2 separate regions of the Homo sapiens genome follow, and region 2 is linked to region 1. A link means that fine-mapping ties the variant in region 1 to the expression of a gene that starts in the linked region. Tissue or cell type: testis. Region 1 holds a variant in brackets; the other region holds the start of a gene. All regions are shown on one strand. Distances are from middle to middle.

The links. PIP is the estimated chance that this variant, and not a neighbour inherited with it, causes the effect.
Region 2: PAK6 starts here. The variant in region 1 is fine-mapped to the expression of PAK6 in testis (GTEx, PIP above 0.99).

The regions. Positions count from the first base shown.
Region 1 is chr15:40,216,560-40,219,059 of GRCh38, forward strand. It overlaps BUB1B (BUB1 mitotic checkpoint serine/threonine kinase B), which reads left to right. Exons shown (of 23, transcript NM_001211.6): 21 at 937-1,108; 22 at 1,897-2,003. BUB1B-PAK6 (BUB1B-PAK6 readthrough) reads left to right here and starts at 869. Exons shown (of 10, transcript NM_001128629.3): 1 at 869-1,108. All of the region lies in intron 1 of LOC107984763 (a long non-coding RNA gene), which reads right to left. The variant T/C (reference allele first, on the strand shown) is at 1,296.
Region 2 is chr15:40,237,491-40,240,108 of GRCh38, forward strand. It overlaps PAK6 (p21 (RAC1) activated kinase 6), which reads left to right and starts at 1,573. Exons shown (of 11, transcript NM_001395430.1): 1 at 1,573-2,312. All of the region lies in intron 1 of BUB1B-PAK6 (BUB1B-PAK6 readthrough), which reads left to right. LOC107984763 (a long non-coding RNA gene) reads right to left here and starts at 2,211. Exons shown (of 3, transcript XR_001751506.2): 1 at 1,995-2,211.

The DNA.
Region 1 (2,500 bases):
TATATATATATATTTTTTTTTTTTTTTAATTATAGTATAGTTTTATGGTGGCCAAAAAAGGTTGGCTCTTGTGCCAAGGAAAAATGAGAGCAATTATCAATTTTAAAGTAAAATACATAGATCATTCTGTGCCGTGGAGGTATGTAATTGGAGTAGTTAAAGACTGTATTTAGGAATATTGCACCAATATCAGGAGTTTGAGGGAATTAATTGAGAAAAACAGACAAAAGGAACACATGAAAACCCACTCTTTTCATTTATAAACAGTTCCTATGTCCCCTTGGAGAATAGCATTATTGCATAGGATAGATAAACCCAAGGAAAACAAAATTAATTGATAATTAATTAGTATTATAAAGATTTTTTTAGTAAATAACTGGAATTACAAGTAAGAGTAAGATAAAATATGGTGTTTTACAAGAAATTTTACAATACAGATAGGACTTTATAAAACAGACTTGCATTGTTTTCCATTAAACTCTGGAAGGAAGAATCTAAACAATACTTGGAAAGCCTATCTGGAATAGTAAACAAGAAAGGCTATGACACCTATAAAATTTTAATTTCCTCCATCATAATTCCTGTCAGTGTATAAATCATTGCAATTGTATGTGTTAATGTGTACAGTACAGGGAAGAAGCCTGTGCTCTGCTTCCATACTTACTTTATATAATATGGAAGCTTGATAAATGTTTAATGGTGGCCATGCACCGTGATTGAAATATACTTTGTGTCACCAAAGTGGTGACATTCCTTCCGCATTGGGTGGACACTGCCACTGCTCTGTCTTACAGGTGCATTTTCAAAATTAACCACTGGAGGGAGTTGTTGGCATAGCTAAGATGTACCCAAGGTACCTTTTTTTTTTAAAGACCAGCTATGCAGCTTCTTTCATGGCCTATTTTTATTATCTCCTTCTCTTAAATCTGGGCTCAGAATCCACGATCCCTATGATTGTAACAAGAACAATCAAGCTTTGAAGATAGTGGACTTTTCCTACAGTGTTGACCTTAGGGTGCAGCTGGATGTTTTTACCCTCAGCGGCTTTCGGACTGTACAGATCCTGGAAGGACAAAAGATCCTGGCTAACTGTTCTTCTCCCTACCAGGTAAGTGTAAAACAAGCCTGAGCAAATATGGAGAGGGTTTCTTAATCTCTTTATTATCTAGATAAGCTATAAAAGCTACTGTTTACTGATACCGACTCCTAGAATAGATGACCTAGTTTTCAAATATCACCAAGTCAAGTAAAATGTAACATTTTTGTGTTACAGCATTGAAGAATATACACATACA[T/C]GTGCAAACACATGACTAACTCTGTAACCGAGTGCCAGGGCCACTCCTACTGCCTACCACCCATGTAATCTTTTATAAGTCATTTTCTGTGATCTTCTCTGTAAAATAGGGATAACAGTCTCTGCTATGTGTTTATCAGAATTGTTATGAGGAGTAAATGAAGTAATGTATATAAAAAGAACATTAGCACAAATGTAAAGTCTTTTGTATGGTGGCATTATATGCAGAAATTCCTTCTAACTCAGCTTTAGACATAAGACATTTGCTGATTGAATATGTAGCACAAACCTGAACTAATCATGTGGACCCCATTTAGATCACAGCTGGAGTTCATGCAAACTCAGTAGGTCTACAAATTTGAATGTGATAGTCCAAATATTTCATCTTTTGTTCTTAAGGATAATTCCTAGAATTGGCTCTATTGATCACTTCTTTGGAGAGCTTCTCCCTTTACTGTAAGGGTGAGGAACAGTCTACTAAAATGTATGTCATAAAATAAACTTAGTTAAGCACTGTAATACCTTTCAACTTCCTACCGAAATAAGCTGCCATGGTAGAGGCAGAGAATTATTTTAGCTGATGGTGCTTTTTGTGATTTCAGGTAGACCTGTTTGGTATAGCAGATTTAGCACATTTACTATTGTTCAAGGAACACCTACAGGTCTTCTGGGATGGGTCCTTCTGGAAACTTAGCCAAAATATTTCTGAGTAAGTATTGATGAATGTCAGGGTCTCTGCCTGTCCCAATAATTTTCTGTTTCTCTTGGGTGCTATCTCTGCTTTGGCAGCCTTAGTTTTTTAATCCAAATGCCATGGTTCCAGTAGTTTCAGCCAGTTTTCATTAGAGTATCAGCAGAGCAGCTAGTGCAGGAAAAAGGAACTGCTTACTAAAAATAAGATTCAAAACTATTCAGACTTCAGGACATCATTCTGAATCTAGCTGTATCTTCCAGACTACAGCTATAGTATGGAAGCTTCCCTGTTTAGATATGTGAAAAGAAGCATTTCATGAGAATAATTTTCTAACTAATTGGTGTTAGCCTTAAATTCCTTTTTCTTTATTTATTTATTTTTTGAGACGGAGTCTCGCTCTGTTGCCCAGGCTGGAGTGCAGTGGCATGATCTCGGCTCACTGCAACCTCTGCCTCCCAGGTTCAAGTGATTCTCCTGCTTCAGCCTCCTGAGTAGCTGGGATTACAGGCGTG
Region 2 (2,618 bases), 21 kb after region 1:
TTTTCTTTTGAGACAGAGTCTCGCTCTGTCGCGCAGGCTGAAGTGCAGTGGCACAATCTTGGCTCACTGCAACCTCCGCCTCCCGGGTTCAAGCAATTCTCCTGCCTCAGCCTCCCAAGTAGCTGGGATTACAGGCATGTGCCACCACGCCCAGCTAATTTTTGTATTTTTAGTGGAATGAGGTTTCACCATGTTGGCCAGGCTGGTCTCAATCTCTTGACCTCATGGTCCACCCGCCTCAGCCTCTCAAAGTGCTGGGATTACAGGCGTGAGCCACTGTGCCTGGCCACAAATTGAAATTCTTATGTTTAATGCCATGACATCTAACACTGCGTTCAATCAAAATGTCTACGCATGCAGCTTGAGACCTTTGCACAGAAGGTGCCTAGGGTCATGATTTGGGAAGATTAATCTGCCATCAGTGGAGGGGTGGATAAAAACTAATGTTTATTGGGATCAAGATGAGCAGTCTCTGTGCCAGAAACTTTATTCCTTTAATTTCCACAGCCCTGTGAGGCAGGTGAAATCATCCCCATTTTATGGATGAGGAAATTGAAGTTCAATTGGTTCAATAACATGCCAAAGGTCACTCAACTGATGAACAGTGGAGCTGAGATGCGGAAGACTGAAGACTCACAGCCTGGACTTTTAACCAAACACCACATGGCTTCGCTACAGAAGAAAGTTAGAAAGTTTTCAAAAATAAAATGTAGAGCCAAGTGCCACCTTGGATATAAGGGACTGGGGGACGGGAAGAGGCAAGAACTCCCAGGCTTCCCTCTGGCTGTCAATAGCTAGTGGGTCCTGGCAGTGGGAGCTGGGCCATCAGAGGTGGCGCCTGAAGTGGGGCAGGCACAAAATGGGTTTTCGGGCAAGCATTTGCCCAGGTGATGGTCAAAGCCACAGAAAAAAGGTGTTTTGATGGAGTGGTGGCTGAGTGTGGGGAGAGATGAGCAGGGGACCAAGCCTGGAGCTTGGGCAGCCCACGATTGGACACTAGGAGAAGAAAAGAAGCCAGTGGAGGAGACACTGAGGCTAGGGATGGGGAGGGCACTGTGGAAGGCTGGGCTCCACCTGGCGCTCCGGGGAGCTGGCAGGGGGGCACATCAAGGAGCTCAAGCTGCCTCACCAGCAAATGCCTCTGTTTCTGACCAGGGGCAATGAAATAAAGGGACCCGGTTGAGTAACTGGTTTCTGGTCCCTGCCAGCCCAGGAAGCCAGCACCCACCCTGCCTTACATCCCATGTGCCACTCTCAGCCTTCGAAGCAAAACCAGCTGAGACCAGCACCTGCCAGATCTGAATGCGCAGCTCCAAGTTCTGGGGGGTGGGGGTGGGGGTGAGCCAAGGAGGTCTGGCTTCTCTAGGGCAAGGGTAGGAAGGACAGCAGGGAGGCTCACCCTGAGCCCGGCAGGCAGCCCTTCCTCCTCCTCCCCTTCAGCAAAGAAAGGCAGATAAAAACGTGTTTTTATAAATAGCTCCAGCCCCAGCTGATTTGTAAATTCAGTGGGTTTTTTGTGTCAATGACATCACCTTCCTCCCCATGGCAACCCCCGACGATATCAAAATTGCCAAGCAACGTTGGAGCAGCTCGGCGCCCCAAACGAGCAGGTCGATGCCTGAGGATTTAATGGAGAAATCCCAAAGTGAGCCGGGGCGCGCGGTGGAGGAGGGGCGCGCCGCAGCCGGGGCCGCTGGGCCCTGATGGGCGGGAGCGGGGTGGAGCGGCCTCGCCTGCCAGGCAGCCCTGGGCGCGGGGCTCGGCGGCCACACTCTGGAGACAGCCACGGTCCAGGCAGGTGGGGGAGGGCGCTGCTCCCGTCCTGATGTGCCAGGAGCCGCCAGCAGCCATCCAGGTGACTAAGCCGGCCCACTAGCACTGAGTCACCGCCCGCCTCGAGCTGTTCTTGCTTCTCCTTTGCATCTGATTATTTTGGGAGCTGGAAACTTGGAGCTGCACCTGAGTCCCGCCCCTTCTAGCTCTCCCCTCCCTACCTTGGGCTCCAGGAAGATGGGACTTGCTGTGAGTCTGCTGCCACCCCCTAAAGATATGGAAGACGCTGTGGGGGCCAGAAGTGCCCGGGGGGCTGTGGCAGCAGGCAGAGTGCAATAGCAGATATGGTGGTCAGGCTGCCTGTGTGTGTCCTCTGGAGGTGTTGGGACAGAAGGGCAGTCTTGTCCGAGCTGACTGGAGTCCTCCCGGGCTGGCTCTGAACTCATCTCCCACGGGGATGTTTCGGTAAAGGAGTGGCTTCTGGGGTCGGAGTGGCATTTGGAGAGCGAGGCTGGATTGGCTTAGGCTGGCCTGGGCAGGTAGGTGGCTCTGTGTTGGGTGTGGACCCACGTGTGTGTGAGTGCGAGAGTGTGTAAGCCAGTGTGTGTGCCGTCCCCCTGCTGGGGACAGCAGCTGGGTCCAGCAGAGAGCTGGCTGGGGGCTTGACAGGAGTTTATCCTAACTGATGCTGGGTGGGCGCAGGCCCTGAGATGGGCGTCAGGGAGAGGGGACGCCAGACACACGGCCTGAGCAGGGTGAGGAGCAGCTGCCAGCCCCGGCAGGCCCAGGCCCTGTCTGGGTGCACAGGACAGAGACACAGCAAGATGCCCAGGTAGGAAGCCGTC